Linked DNA regions of Homo sapiens: region 2 is linked to region 1. Evidence: fine-mapped expression QTL. Tissue or cell type: whole blood. Region 1 holds a variant in brackets; the other region holds the start of a gene. All regions are shown on one strand. Distances are from middle to middle.

Region 1 (8,000 bases):
GCTCTGTCACCCAGGCTGGAGTGCAGTGGCGCAATCTCGGCTCACTGCAAGCTCCACCTCCTGGGTTCACACCATTCTCCTGCCTCAGCCTCCCGAGCAGCTGGGACTACAGGCGCCCACCACCGCGCCCGGCTAATTTGTTTGTATTTTTAGTAGAGACGGGGTTTCACCGTGTTGGCCAGGATGGTCTTGATCTCCTGACCTCACGATCTGCCCGCCTTGGCCTCCCAAGGTGCCGGGATTAGAGGCATGAGCCCCCACACCCACCCCCAGGCTGGTGGTTTTCTAAGACACTGGACACCACAGAGGCCCTCTCAGACACACGCTCTGCTCTTTCCTCTGGAGAAAGGCAGCCCTGGCACCTGCGCGGGCGGCTTCACATGGAAACAGAGTCTATAATGTGAGCAAGTGAGGGCGAGGCCATGCTGTTCTCACAGGCAGTTTTGTCCGAGAATGTCCTGAACACCAGTGGACAGCCCAGAGTCTCCCAGTGCCGTCTCCTCCTTCCCATCGTCAGGGCTGGGTTTCAGGCCACATCAGGTGGGTCTAGGGCGAGGTCCCGACTCCCAAGGTGGCCTTTCTGCATCTGTGCAGGATGCTGGCAGGACTGGGGTGCTGACCAGGCCTCTCCACTCCAGCTGGGCTGGACACCAGCACTGGCCTCACAGCACTCTCGCCTGCCAGCAGCTCTGTCCCGCCCCAACCCCAAAGCAGCCCCTGAGCACAAGCAGCCGGGGCCTCATGCAGCCCCGAGACCCTCCCCTAACACCACCTCCCCCAACACCACCACGCATCCCTAGCGCCCTGCCCGCAACTTGGCCACTTCCATGGCCTGGGCCTCTGGCCTCCACCCTCCGTGCAGAGGGACCAGTGCTCTGCCTGGACACCAGCTCCCCAGAACGAGAGAGGCCACCTCAGCAGGAGAACCAGGGTGACCACAGGCTCCCCCCTAGCACCTCCTCTCAGGGGCTGCGGTCTCCCCGCCTGCTAAAGACGGCTGGGCCCATCCATGGTGGGGGCCGGTCTTGCACCAGCAGCTACCACAGTCACAGCTGGACCGAAAATGCAACAGCATGAAAAGCGACATCCCAGCTTGGTGTTGCTGCAGCCACAGGCTGCTCACTCCTAACAGTGACACACGACAACAGACGCAACAGCGCAGTAGAGAGCACGCATCACCCAACAGGAGCGTGAGGTTCAGACACAACGGCGCAGCGCAGGGCACGCGTCACCCAATGGGCGTGAGGTTCGGACACGACGGCACAGTGCAGAGCACGTGTCACCTGACAGGGGCGTGAGGTTCTCCTGCACAGAGCTGGGCACAACGGGGTTTCAAAGCCACATTTCCACATCTCTGAAAATTTCAACTCACCTCATTTCTGCCAACAATTAGAAAAAAAAAAAAAAAACAATTCTATTTTCTAGATATGCAAACAAAATTCAAACGTAAGCCTTGGCTTCCTGGCCTGAAAGGATCTGTGTGCGGTCAGCACGTCTACAGGATTCTAGAATGGATGACGTCCCCACCCCGGCGCTCTAAGCCCCGTTCCCTCCTCCCGCACCTGCCCTAGGCCCTGGGGTTTCTACCAGGGGAGAGGCACCCAGGGAGGGAGCACACGCACCTGTGATGGGCACATAGCCAACGCCCTGCTGGTACACTGTTGGCATCAGGACCACGGGCTGGGGTGGCATCACCATGGCAGCTGGAAGCAGCTGAAACACAGCGGAGATGGTCCCGGGGTCAAGGAGGAACATCCACCCATCAGAACCTCGGGAATCGCCCTCCCCACAATTGCCCTCCCCACGCCAGCCCAGAATCGCCCTCCCCATGCCAGCCCAGAATCACCCTCGCTACACGAGCCCTGAGTGCACAGGGGACGCTGGGCCCTGCTCCCACCCCTGCACCACCTCCTCAAATCCAGGAGGTGACATGGCTCGGGCTTACAGACCCCCTTCTAACTGGGATGTGACTGAGAGAGGATGGTGACAGGAGGGACATCCCAGTGTAGGTGTCGAGTCGGCCTGGGGGGAACCACACTGCACTGCTGTGGTGTCTGAGTTTGAAAGTGTCAACTTCACATAAGTCACTGCACTGCTGTCAACTCTGAGTTCAAAACTGTCCACTGTGGATAAGTCACTGCACCACTGTCACCTCTGAGTTCAAAACTGTCAACTGCGGATAAGTCACTGCACCGCTGTCGTCTCTGAGTTTAGTTCAAAACTGTCCACTGCGGATAAGTCACTGCACTGCTGTCTCCTGAGTTCAAAACTGTCAACTGTGGATAAGTCACTGCACCGCTGTCATCTCTAAGTTTAGTTCAAAACTGTCCACTGTGGATAAGTCACTGCACTGCTGTCTCCTGAGTTCAAAACTGTCCACTGCGGATAAGTCATTGCACTGCTGTTGTCTCTGAGTTCAAAACTGTCAACCGTGGATAAGTCACTGCACTGCTGTCGTCTCTGAGTTTAGTTCAAAACTGTCCACTGCAGATAAGTCACTGCACTGCTGTCTCCTGAGTTCAAAACTGTCCACTGCGGATAAGTCACTGCACTGCTGTTGTCTCTGAGTTCAAAACTGTCAACTGTGGATAAGTCACTGCACCGCGGTTGTCTCTGAGTTCGAAACTGTCAGCTGCGGATAAGTCACTGCACCACTGTCGCCTCTGAGTTCAAAACTGTCAGCTGCGGATAAGTCACTGCACCGCTGCCGTCTCTGAGTTCAAAACTGTCAGCTGTGGATAAGTCACTGCACCGCTGTCTTCTGAGTTCGAAACTGTCAACTGCGGATAAGTCACTGCACCACTGTCGTCTCTGAGTTCGAAACTGTCAACTGCAGGTAAAATCACTGGAGCGTCATGATGGTTCTGTGTTTGTATGAAAGCGTCTGTTAAAGACGTGTCATGAGACATTTACACATCGTCACTCACGGCCGGGACATGATTTAAAATATCCCAGCTTTAACAAAAAGGGGGTGGGAGGAGCCAAGATGGCCCAGAAAAGCAGCTCCCTGCTGCTGCCTCCCCGCCGCAGCCTCCCCGCCGCACCCTCCCCGCCGCAGCCTCCCCGCCGCACCCTCCCCGCCGCAGCCTCCCCGCCGCACCCTCCCCGCCGCACCCTCCCCGCCGCAGCCTCCCCGCCGCAGCCTCCCCGCCGCAGCCTCACCGCCGCAGCCTCCCCGCCGCAGCCTCCCCGCCGCACCCTCCCCGCCGCAGCCTCCCCGCCGCACCCTCCCCGCCGCAGCCTCCCCGCCGCAGCCTCCCCGCCGCACCCTCCCCGCCGCAGCCTCCCCGCCGCACCCTCCCCGCCGCAGCCTCCCCGCCGCAGCCTCCCCGCTGCACCCTCTCTGCCGCAGCCTCCCCGCCGCAGCCTCCCCGCCGCACCCTCCCCGCCGCAGCCTCCCCGCCGCACCCTCCCTGCCGCAGCCTCCCCGCCGCAGCCTCCCCGCCGCACCCTCCCCGCCGCAGCCTCCCTGCCGCACCCTCTCTGCTGCAGCCTCCCTGCTGCACCCTCCCTGCTGCACCCTCTCTGCTGCACCCTCTCTGCTGTCACATCTGCCTGGCATTTCCCACAGCACCATTTTTCAGTAACAGCCTGAAAATCCTCTGGTTGATGATACAGACGAGACGGCAGGAGCTCTGCGTCTTGGAGCCTCTAACTGGCCCTCCTGATGCCCCCAGGAGCTGCAGGTGCCCTGAGAATGGAGATGGCTGGGAGCCAGGGCGCTGACGTGCTGGCCCCACAGCCAGGCCTCGACTTCCTGACCCTGAGCACAGCAGCCCCCAGGCTTCCCCGACATCTCCAGAGATGCCCTGCCACACCACGGCCAATGCCTGCCCTGTGGGGAGGAGCCTGGTGTCCTGCAGGGCCCAGGGCTGTATCTCAGACCCTGGAGGGCTGCTCAGCTGGACCCTAAGGGCAGAGCTTGGAAGGGCTGTGGGGGTCCTCCGAGGACACAGGGGCCTGCAGTGGAGACCACCACAAAGGGTTGGCTCATCTTAGGAACACAAACAACCCCTATGCTGTTTCCCCAGACAGAGAACATGGGCAGGAGCAGTGGGCAGGGCAGCCCCTCTCTGCCACCAAACCACCCAGGGCCCCTGCCCTCTGTCCTCAGAACGTGAGCCCTGCTGTTTTATGGGCTCAGTGCCTCCAGGAAAGAGACAAGGGTGTCTG[T/C]GGGGCGGCATAGCCCCGACGTGCTCCAACATACCCCAATGCGCCCCACCCCGCCCAGGCGTGCAGCTCACCGCGTAGGACATGACGAGGTTGATCATGCCCTCCTTGTCGTCCCCCTGCCTCCCGCTCAGGCTGTACCACTTGTCCTCCACCTTGCCCTGCCTCAGGGACTCCGGGATGGTGATGTGGGTCCAGGCAATGCGGTCGTCCATGGAGAAGGCTCTCTGCGGGAGACAAGAGGGAGAGGCCCCAGGCATCAGGGAAGGGGCCACCCTGCCCCTGCAGCCGCACCATCGTGGGCCCGCCTCGAGTCCCCGTCTTATCTGTGGAACAGGGCTCCCACCTGCACCAACACCCCATCGATGAGACCCCTCGGGCAGCGCAGGCTTCACGATCGTATATCAGCCTCCGTAGGGGACTTCTTCCCTCTCTCCACCAGGATGGGCCAGGGCCAGGGCCAGGGCCAGGTCTGGGGCTGGGGAAAGCGAGGGCCCTGGGCTGCTGTCCTCCTTCAGTTCCACTTCAGGGACACTGGCTGCTCCTCCCCAGCCCTCGGGGCCCCATCCTTGCTCCACCGGCTGCCACCTGTCAAGCCCCAGAGCAGCCGGGGTGCAGACTGGAAAGGACACGGGGTCTGCCTCCCACAGCTGACTCTGCACTTCCCATGCGCTCTCTACTCTTCTGAGGGCCAGGGAGGGGAAAGCAGGTAGGGACGGGGAGAGAAAAGCCGGGAGGAAAAGGCAGGGCCCAGGCAGGGAGGGCTGGCCGTCTGCTGGCCTGGCTGCCCCACACTGCTCCCCGGCCCCCACCCAGTCTCTAGCCTCACAATGCCACAGGTGCGAGGTGCCAGGACCACACTGAGCAGCAGCCTCGCCACATCCCCTCTGACCTTCTGACTCTGCCTCAGAAGCGCTGCAGGTGCAGCCACGGACGGGACTCAGGACCCTCAAGGGTCACGACCATTCGCACCACCAAGAACAGCTTTCCCACCCAGTAGGCAGCCGCACTCTCTGGAAATCCCACCTGCTGGTGAGCGGCCGGACCCTGTGCGCCCAGCGGGGCGGACACATGCACGCTCTGTCCCTGGAAATCCCACCTGCTGGTGAGCGGCCAGACGAGTGCCCAGTGGACACGTGCACACTCTGTCCCTGGAAATCCCACCTGCTGGTGTGCGGCAAGACCCTGTGCGCCCAGCGGGGCGGACACATGCATGCTCTGTCCCTGGAAATCCCACCTGCTGGTGAGCGGCCAGACGAGTGCCCAGTGGCGGGGGACACATGCATGCTCTGTCCCTGGAAATCCCACCTGCTGGTGAGCGGCCAGATCAGTGCCCAGCGGAGGGGACACGTGCACGCTCTGTCCCTGGAAATCCCACCTGCTGGTGAGCGGCCAGACCCTGTGCGCCCAGCGGAGGGGACACGTGCACGCTGTATCCCTGGGTCATGCTTGTCACTGGGGATGTTTCCAAATGTAAGTATGTTCAAGGAGCTGGAAACAATCCCTTTTTCACATTCCTTGGGGAGAGCAGGACCCTGTCATGCACCCAATGAAACACCAGGTGGGGAGCCACGCCTCGAAGCCAGCCAGGAACGTGGCTGTGTTGGCAGGTGTGTCCCCACGGCAGCCACGCTCAGCCACGTGCAGCCTCCATAATAGCTGGCACGTCCCTCTCACCTCATCGAAGATCTCGAGATAGAAAGAGTCCACGCCTGGGGGCACCGTGCAGTGGATGACCTTATTCCAGCGGGGATTCTTGGCGCCATTGTGTGCCGTGGGCGTCTCGTACACCGCGTAGCCCAGGCGCAGTCGGCAGTAGGGGTCCATGCGGGTCATGCCGTAATTCTTGGCCAACTTTGCCTGGAATGAAGCCAATGTCAGGAAAAGGAGGTGCCAACCATCAGGAGAGGGTGGGTTCTCTAGGCCGTCTGCCTCCCTGAACCCTTCCACGAGGCCTTTTCCTAACACATAGACTACAGCCACTCAGAGTCGCCTGAACACGGCTGTGACCTGCTTCCCAGGAGGCCAGGAGCAAGAAGAGTGAGCCACAGATGGATCGTGCAGTTCTGAGACAAAGCACGTGGCTCGTCCTTGACAGCAGAAACCTACGACGCTCACAGACACAGCTGAGGCCGCCACTCACCCACCATGAAGGGCGCACTCTCTAATGCCCTCCTCAGAAGTGGCTGAGGAGGGAAAGAGGAGGAGGTCCCGGGACAGAGCTGAGAGCCAGAGCATGACATGGAGTGTGAACCTGCCCCCGGAGCATGATGACCCGGGAGAGGTGCATCCTCGCTCTAGGTGAGAGTGAGGACACCTGCTGCACATAATTCAGACGCCACGTGGCTGCTTTCCTCCCTCGTGAAGGCAGCAGCCCTGCCTGTGCTATCGGAGTACGTGGGGTTTTGGGGACTGGAACTTGTCTTTCTTGTGTCTCCCAATCACAAGGAGCCACATCACATGTAGACCATGAGATTCGACTTCAGGCCAGGTGCTCAGCTGGGCAGGGACATTTGAGGTCCTCGGGGTGGGAGTGAACGTGTGTTCAGAATAAGACAGAAGACCGTGGCAAGTAAGATGATTGTTCAGCAAACAAACTCAACATGGATGGCAGGTTCAAATATAAAACCTAAAACTGTAAAACCTTTACAAGAAAAAACCAGGAGAAAAGCCCTCGTAAGCTGGGTTGGGTTCAGCCCTGCAGCTCCGGCTGCCTGTAAAGCGTCCTGCCTGGAATGCAGACGGCCTCCCTGTACCACTGCCACCCGCTCTCCTGCAGCCAACCCGGCTCACCCCCAGGAGCTGGTGATAGAGACCCCGGGAGCCATCCCGGCCCTCCCACCCACATGGAGCCCGCCAGTTCCTCCTTCCCAGTGGAACAGAGTCCAGACACTGCCCCCCGACCCCCTCTGAGGGAACGGCCAACCTGTCCACACCAACCCCCCTCTGAGAGTACTGCCACCCTGTCCTCACCACCCACCCCCCGAAGGCACGGCCACCCCATCCTCACTGACGCCCCTCTGAGGGCACGGCCACCCTGTCCTCACTGAACCCTCTCTGAGGGCACCGCCGCCCTGTTCTCACCGCACCCCTCTGAGGGCACGGCCGCCCCGTCCTCGCTGACCCCCCGCTGAGGGCACGGCCGCCCCGTCCTCGCTGACCCCCCTCTGAGGGCACGGCCGCCCCGTCCTCACCGACCCACCTCTGAGGGCACGGCCGCCCCGTCCTCACCGACCCACCTCTGAGGGCACGGCCGCCCCGTCCTCACCGACCCACCTCTGAGGGCACGGCCGCCCCGTCCTCACCGACCCCCGAGGGCACGGCTGTCCCGTCCACGCCAACCCTCGCCGCACAGCTGAACTCTCCCCTCCTGTGCCCACATCTCTGGACTGCCAGGTCCTCTGTTTTCTATTCTTGTCCACATACAAGTTCCCTCCTTTCACTTCTAATCAAAGCTGTGGCCGGTCCTTTTAGGTCAAAACTGCCCCATTCTTGGGTCCTTAATTTTAGCGTGTTTCTTGGGTGGCCACAGCGTACTCCGGAATGCTATGGAGTGACAGTTTTCCGGAAGCTCCTGGGCGACAGGCATGCTCAGCCTCTAGCAGCTTCCAATTCCCTTCTGCTGCACACCCACACATCTGCTAGATCAGCTCTTACACTCCAAACTCTGCCCCTGTAAACTCCTTAGCAACTGCCCTATTTTCTGGAGAGTATGTAGCAGGAAAGTCTGAGACCAGCATGATTTTCCAAAGCTTTCAGGTAACTGTGCTGTCTCTGCCTAGCTGCTATGACTTATTTTTATTAATAACTTTAAAGGCTTTGAGCAAAGC
Region 2 (8,000 bases), 22 kb after region 1:
CTCACCCATGCTTTCTGATAATATGCAGACTATATTGAAAAAAGGTTATCTTTCCAAAATACTGGCCTTTTTGAAACGTGAGGGAAGCACTGCACAGGGCTGAAGCATCCCTTAGTGGCTATTCAGGGAACCATTATCCTGAAGATCTAAACACGGTATGATTCTCTCAGAACGATGTCGGGCTGGCTAGCTTCACACGTCCTCTCCACACCTACCCACCCGGGCCCCTGAAGCTCCCTCTACCCAAGGACAAAAGAACCCTCCCAGGACCCCATTAGCGGCCCCTCTGCTCCTTCACGGCCCATGGGATCTTGCCGTCTCCCCTTATCACTAGGGGGAGGCAACGGCTAGACCACAGTCAGGGTCTCCCGAGCCAGAGTCCTGCCCCCGGACCCTGGGGAGCATCTCTTTCTGCTGGAAAGCTGAGCGAGCGCCCTGCTTAACCTCCTGCCTCTCTGGCACCACAGGTGTAACAGAAAGAGGACATGATAAATACTGTGTCAAGACATCCTGCAAAAGCAGGGCTCCTCTAGGTGCTAGTAACTGGGTAAAGGCCCACTATGGGTTAATTCAGAGGGGCTGGGGTGGGTCATGCTCAGCGAAGCAGGCTGGTGCCAAGGCGGGCCCTGCCTTGCGTGTGCCAGGCAACACTTTACAGAGTGCTGCGCTGAGCCGGTAAACTCCAGGGCAAGTCCAGTCCTCCTGTGCCCAGGACCCTCCGGCGGCCTCCAGCTCCTGCCTCCCTCCATCCTCGGCCCCTGGGGCTCCCTCCTCTCCACCTCCAGACCCCACACCTCTCTTTCCGTGCCCTGCCCTCCCAGCCCAACCCCTACTCCCATTCCTCCTCCGAGAGATGTCACGTCCTCACCCCAACACCCAGCCCTGGTGAGGCCCATTTACAAACTCTCCCAGCACCTGACGCTTAAGATCACAGACCCACCGGGCCGTCACCACACAGCTCAGCTGTCCTTATGTGCTGCCATGTCTACCGTGCTGCCCTGGAAGACCCCAGTGGCAGGAACCACCTGGTTGTCCCCTGCATCATGGCCATCCTGAACGCCACAGTTGGTAGCGCTGGTTGATTAAGTCACATGTACTCCAAGCAACACCTGAGACCCCCGTCGCTGACAACACCTTCTTAAGAGACCCTGGCAGCTCCGAGCCAGACCTCATGTTACTATGCGTTTACCGGTCAACGGGGGTGCCCCTGAAATACCTGCTCGTCTACATGATGGAAACAGCCCAGGAGGCACTGGGCAAGAGGAGATTCTAACGACACCTCAGCACTTGCCAGCACAGGCCCTGCGTGTGAGAACATCTCCTGCCGCTCCCACTTCCTCATCGCGGGTGTAACAGCGCTGCACGCCGGTGCCCCTCAGAACAGGAAGGGCCTGCCTCCCACTGCTCCCTGCCTGCTCAGCACCTGATGCATTCAAAATCAGTCCTACACCCCAGTGGGGTTCCAGATGAGGAACAAGTTCCCAGGAGGCAGAGGATGTCTCCCAGACCACACAGCAAGGAAGGGGCCATCCTGCCTGGCCACCATGCCCCCCTGCTCTCCAGGAGGACACAACAGCAGGGTGCTGGTTCCCTTGTTGCTCTGAGTCTCCTGTTAGGCAGAAAGGAGCACTTGGCTGCCACGGCAACTTGCGGGGACTCACTGTGGTGGAGTAAAGATGAAGAGGTAGAGACGCTGCCATCAGAGGCCGTCCAGGACCTCTGCCGACCCGTAGGCTCCACACCTGAGTCTCATAAGTGTCAGGAGGTTTCCTTCAAAGTCCTCAGAAAAAGCAGCTATGCCCAAAACCTGGGGCTTCATTCTAAACTCAGAAAAAATGTTCTACCTGAAGAATTATCTCCTCGGGAGAAACACCAGGACTTGTGGATACAGTGTTAAGGGTGGGGAGCCCTGGTGACCCCTCCACCACGTCCAGTACTGGGCTGCGCGAGGGCAGGGACCTTGGAGCATCGTGAAAAAGGACTTTTTCCACCCACGGCATGTTCAGAGCCACTGTTGATAAAAACTGTACCGCTCACGACAGCCTGCCCCAGCCCAGCCTCAGTGAGTGACACGGTTTGAATCTGTGTCCCCGCCAAATCTCACGCTGAATTATGATCCCCAATGTTGGAGGTGGGGCCTGGCAGGGTGGGTGTGTGGGTCACAGGGACAGATCCCTCGTGGCTTGGTGCTGTCCCGGTGATAGTGAGTTCTCACAAGATCTGGTCATTACAGTGTGTGGCACCTCCCCACCCCCAACTCTCTTGCTGCTTTCGCCATGTGACGTGTAAGCTCCCACTTGGCCTTCCGCCATGACTGGGAGCTTCCAGAGGCCTCCCCAGGAGCAGATGCCGGCACCATGCTACCTGTACAGCCTGCAGAACCGGGAGCCAATTAAATCTCTTTTCTTACAAATTACCCAGTCTCGGTATTCCTTTACAGCAATGCAAGAAGGCCCTAACAGTGAGCCAGGAGGCCACTCACGCCAGGAGCCCATCATCTCTGAGTCAGTCTACACCAGCTCTCCTGCAATATTAATGCTATAGAAGAAACTGCCAGGCAACTCTCAGGAGAGAATTCAGAGCAGGAAAGGTTCTCTGAAGTTCCTGGCGCCTATCCTCTCATTTGCAAATGAAGAAACTGAGGTTTTGCACGGTGGCCACTAACCGGGGACACAATTGGGCCCAAGAAGTGGTCACCACTGCCCTCACTCTGTGTAAATGAGAAAGAGGAAACAGCCATCATCTATGGGACCAACTAGAGTGCAGGCCCGCCTCCACCTGGGGGGCCATCAGGGTGCGGGACCCGCCTCCACCTGGGGGGGCCATCAGGGTGCGGGGCCCGCCTCCATCTAGGGTGCCATCAGGGTGCGGGACCCGCCTCCACCTGGGGGGCCATCAGGGAGCAGGGCCCGCATCCATCTAGGGGACCATTAGGGTTCAGGGCCCGCCTCCACCTGGGGGACCATTAGGGTGCGGGGCCCTCCTCCATTCGGGAGTCAGAGCTCGGGGCCGCCTCCATCTGGGCACCGGGCCCTCCTCCATCTGGAGACCATTGGGGAGCGGGGCCTGCCTCCCTCTGGGGCACCATGGGGCACGGGGCCCGCCTCCATCTGGGGCTCACAACGGGCGCAGGCCCCCTCCCCCGGGGCTGCCTCCCCAAAGCTCTGCCCCGGCACGGCGGTGAGCTCAAGCCTCCTGCAGCGTGGGCGCGTCCGTCCGGCCCGCCCCGCCCCGAGGTGTGGACGCCGCCGCTCCCCTCCGGCCGGCCAGGCGCCCCGCGTGCCCCGGGAGAGCCGCGGAGTCGGCCCGCCAGCCGCAGCTGAGCAGTAGCCCTGACCCAAGGCCCCGCCCGCAACCGCAGGTCACCGCCCCCGCCCGACCCTCGCCCGGCTGCCTCACCGGCCCGCGCTGAGTGCTGACGGTGGTCGCCATGGTGCTGCGGCGGCCCCCGTGGCTCGCCGACCCGACAGTGACGCGCCGGGCGACCTCCTGCGCCCCCGCCGGAGCCTGCGACGGAGACAGTTGTCACCTCGAGGCCGCCGCCGCCACAGTCAGCTGACAGCCGCCGCGCCCCGCCCCCGGCACCGCCCCACTGCGCAGGCGCCGCGCCAGGCACCGCCCCTTCCGGCTCTCGCGCGCACGCGCGCTCCAGGGTAGGGCAGGCGCAGCCTCTCGCCCGGCGCCTGCGCACCTGCTCTCTCCTCGAGCCCTGCAGCCCGGCGAAATGGCTCCCGGCGGGGCCGTTTGCGCATGCCCAGTCATGACGGTTGTCGGCGCGGGCCCTAGCGTGGCGGCGCTGCAGTCTGGGCAGTGGGTTGGTTCCTCCTCGGTCCTCTGTCGAGTGGCGACAGGGCCTAGCCACCTGGCGGGGGTGACCTTCGGACGTGCGACCCGCTCGGAGAAGGGAGGGAACTGTGGCCCGCAACAAAGCAGTGACAGGCCCGACATCCCCTGCAGGGCGATCTTTCCCTCAGCTGCCTGCCGGAGGAAGGGCCTTTCTGTTTCACAGGGCTAAAGATGGGGCGCGGTTCCTCCACGGGGCGGCTGCCGGGTGAACGGAACGGGGATGGAGGCGCTGCCAGAAGAGCCCGAGCTCGAGCCCGCCCTGCCCTCGGCCTCCCCGCCGCGCCGCTCCGCAGGAGCCCCGCTCCTCTCCTGCTCGCTCCGGAGAACCCCAGTCCGGCCTGACCTCGGCCCTCGCGGTCAGGCGCTCCAACCAGAGCGACTCCAGCTCGAACAGCGCTGGGTAAACTGAGGCTGAACCCCGCTGGCTGCATCCCCAGGAGTCGGGCGTTTACGGTCACGGGAACAGGTTAATAAACTTTTACGCAGCAGACCCGGAACTTAGGTCCCGATGTCCGGGTATCTTAAGAACAAGAAGCATTCTTAGTTGAAGTTTCGCTTTAAAGATAATGATACAGATGCTTGCGGAGGACAGGCGTTATGCAAAGATTGGCAATCCTTTGACGAGCCCAGGTAGTACAGCACGTCTCCCCCGTGATGTTTTTTGGCTTTTATCTTACATATAAACAAGCGTACCCAGGTGGACGCCTTCCTCCTCGTGCTTTTGGGAACACCCTGCTCTATGGAGTAGCCATTCTTTTATTCCTTCACTGCCTTAATAAACTTGCTTTCACTTTACTCTGTGGACTGGCCTGGAATTCTTTCTTCCACAAGATCCACGAATCCTCTTTTGGGGTCTGGATCAGGACCCTTTTCCGGTAACACAACCACTCCACTAAAAACTCTTTGTCAGTGATCTCTATATTGTTAGTGGTCAGTTCTCAGTCCTCGTCCTCCGGGAACTACAGCAAAATCGATAGTCATTCTTGCTACACATGCTTTCTTCACTCCCCATCCAGGACACCATGTGCTCTCACTTTCCTCTTATCCCAAAGACCACATCTTTGGGTCTCGGTTACCAGTCTCTCCTTTTAAAACCGGCAGCCTGGCCGCTTGCCTGTTTTGATGGGGTGTAGAGAAAAAGAACGAAAGCCCCTTCCTCAAGTTGTAGCTTAACATCCAGCCAATCCACAGCACAAGACCCAAGAAGCTATTAACCACAAGTTCCTGCTTTGGGGGCCTAGGGACTTCCCCGGGCCCCACATGTGCAGTTAGACTTATACTTCAACTATTGTTACCCCTTCCTCATTTTCACGCTAAAAATCACACCTAGGGGTAGAGATTTAAAATGTGAATGTTGCATGCAATGCATGAAGAAGCATGCAAAGCTACTGAGAAGCACTAGACAAACCCCTCCTATCCATGCCTGGACCAATCCCTTCCCTGTGAAACTAACCCACGTGCCACCCCCTGGCGGCGGGGCCCCCCACCGTTTTCCTTTCATGGTGCTGACTTCCTTGTGCACAAGCTAAATAAAGATTTCTCTTTCTCCTCGCTGCTATGTCTGCTGATCTCTCTTTATTTCTATCCTGGGAGATTACAAGATGCCAGGGCACACTGGTAACACTTTGACTCCTTAACATCGGAGTGCCTTACCTCAGGGCTCAGTCCTTGCACATCTTTTCTATCTACATCCTCAGTGAGCTCATCCAGTTCCATTCCTTTAAATGCCATCCATATGCTGATGATCCTAAAATCTGTATCTCCCACCAGGACCTCCGCTAAACACTAGATTCAGCTCTTGCCTTAATATTATTCCCCTATGGGGTGGACAGGTTGTAAGGTAGACATATGATCCCTGCCTCCTGGTGTTCACATCCTTGAATAATCCTCTTGTCTTGAGGGTGGACAGAGCCTGTGGCTTGCTTTTAAACAACAGAATATGGCAGTGGTGATGGGATGTCCCTCCCATGATTACCTGATGTTATAAAAGACTCCATCTTGCTCTCAGACTTATTCTCAAGGGTCTCTCAGCTGCTGGCTTTGAAGAGGCGAGGTGCCATAATTCCTACAACTTCAAGGAAACAAATTCTGCCAGGAATCTGAGGGGGCTTTGATCCTTCCCCAGTCAAGCCTCCAGATGAGAATGCAACCCAGCTGACAACTTAATTATAGCCTCGTAAGACCCAAGAATAAGCCAGCTAAGCTGTGCCTGAACTCCTACCCCACAAAAACTCTGAGATAAGTGTGTGTTGTTTTAAGCCACTAAGCTTACAGCCACGTGATCTGACTTAAGCATTATTAGAATTCCAGAAGAAAAAAGGAGAATGAGGCAGAAAATCTGAAGAAATAATGGCCAATAATTCTCCAAGTTAATGGTAGGCACCAAACAAAATATTTAGGAAGCAATGGATTCCAAACAAATAAACAAAACACTTAGTCAGGTCATATTCACACTGCTGATAACAGAAAGCAAGGAGAAACTCTTAAAAGCAGACAGAGGAAAATGACACATTACATCCAGAAGAATGAAGATTAGAATAGCAGACTTCTCATTGGAAAGAAGGTAAGTCATGTGAATGGAGTGACATCTTTAAAGTGCTAACAGAAAAAAAATTATATGTCAATTGAAATTTCTTGCAAAATGATATGGCGATGTATTTCAGAACAGTGGTTATCTATGTGTGTTGGAAGTGAGGGACTGGAGATTGACTAGACAGGACCATGAGGGAACTTTCTGGGGTGGTAGAAAGATTATATACCTTGATTGGGATGGAGTGGTTATACCAATGTGTAAATTTATCAAAACTCACATGATTGTAAACTTATGATTTGTGCATTCTGATGTATGTATGTAAGTTTTATCTCAATAAAAGGTTAATGACAAAAAGAAAACACTTTCAATATATATGACAGAGTTAGTCTAAATGTATTAAGAGTGCCTACAAATTTCTAAAAAGAAGACATACAGGCTGGGCGTGGTGGCTCATGCCTGTAATCCCAACACTTTGGGAGGCCAAGGTAGGTGGATCACTTGAGGTCATGAGTTCAAGACCAGCCTGGCCAACATGGTGAAACCCTGTCTCTTCTAAAAATACAAAAAAAAAAAAAAAAAAATAGCCTGGCGTGGTGGCACATGCCTGTAATCCCAGCTACTTGGGAGGCTAAGGAAGGAGAATTGCTTGAACCTGGCAGGCAGAGGTTGCAGTGAGCTGAGATCATGCCACTGCACTCCAGCCTGGGCGACAGAGCAAGACTCTTTCTCAAAAAAAAAAAAAAATGTCTATTCATGTCCTTTGCCCACTTTTAAGTGGGATTTTTTGATTTTTTACTGTTGAGTTGTTTGTATATTCTGGATATTAGTCCCTTGTTGGATGAATACTTCGCAAATATTTTCTCCCATTCAGCAGGTTGTCTCCTCACTCTGCTGATAATTCCCTTTGCTGTGCAGAAACTTTTTAGTTTAATATAGTCCCATTTGTCTATTTTGTTTTTATTGCCTGTGCTTTTAAGATCTTAGCCATAAAATCTTCGCCTAGACCAGTGTCCTTAAGTGTTTTTCCTGTGTTTTCTTCTAGTAGTTTTATACTTTCAGGTCTTACTTTAAGTCTTTAATTCATCTTGATTTGACTTTTGCAGATGGTGGGAGATAGGAGTCCAGTTTCATTCTTCTTCATCTGGATGTCCAATTTTCCAAGCACCATTTATTGAAGAGGGTGTCCTTTCCCCACTGTGTGTTTTTGGTGCCTTTGTCAGAAATCAGTTGGCTGTAAGTATGTGGATTTATTTCTGGATTCTCTCTTCTGTTCCATTGGTCTATGTGTCTGTTTTTGTATGAATACAATGCTGTTTTGGTTATGATACTTTTGTAGTTTATTTTGAAGTTGGATAATGTGATGCCTCCAGCTTTGTTCTTTCTGCTCAGGATTGCTTTGGCTATTTGGGCTCTTTTTGTTCCATAAATATTTTAGGATTGTTTTTTCTATTGCTGTGAAAAATGATGTTGGTATTTTGATAGGCATTGTATTGAATCTATAGATTGTTTTGGGCAGTATAGCCATTTTAATAATATTAATTTTTCCAATCGGTGAGCATGGGACATCTTTCCATTTGTTTGCATCATCTTCAATTTTTTTCATCAGTGTTTTGTAGTTTTA

Alleles and levels. Positions count from the first base shown, and alleles are read on the strand shown. Sizes are in standard deviations (SD) of each study's normalised expression.
For the expression in whole blood of the gene that starts at base 3,642 in region 2, T is the low allele of the variant in region 1 and C is the other (moderate effect, 0.54 SD a copy in GTEx).

The links. PIP is the estimated chance that this variant, and not a neighbour inherited with it, causes the effect.
Region 2: TOLLIP-DT starts here. The variant in region 1 is fine-mapped to the expression of TOLLIP-DT in whole blood (GTEx, PIP 0.90).

Annotation. Positions count from the first base shown.
Region 1 is chr11:1,284,380-1,292,379 of GRCh38, forward strand. It overlaps TOLLIP (toll interacting protein), which reads right to left. Exons shown (of 6, transcript NM_019009.4): 3 at 5,848-6,030; 4 at 4,245-4,397; 5 at 1,623-1,713. Among named protein-coding and RNA genes, the nearest start is that of TOLLIP, 21 kb to the right of the region's middle. The variant T/C (reference allele first, on the strand shown) is at 4,174.
Region 2 is chr11:1,306,067-1,314,066 of GRCh38, forward strand. It overlaps TOLLIP-DT (TOLLIP divergent transcript), which reads left to right and starts at 3,642. Exons shown (of 1, transcript NR_029409.1): 1 at 3,642-4,641. TOLLIP (toll interacting protein) reads right to left here and starts at 3,566. Exons shown (of 6, transcript NM_019009.4): 1 at 3,400-3,566. The coding sequence starts at 3,432. RefSeq lists silencers at 3,022-3,731, 5,257-5,386 and an enhancer at 3,962-4,723.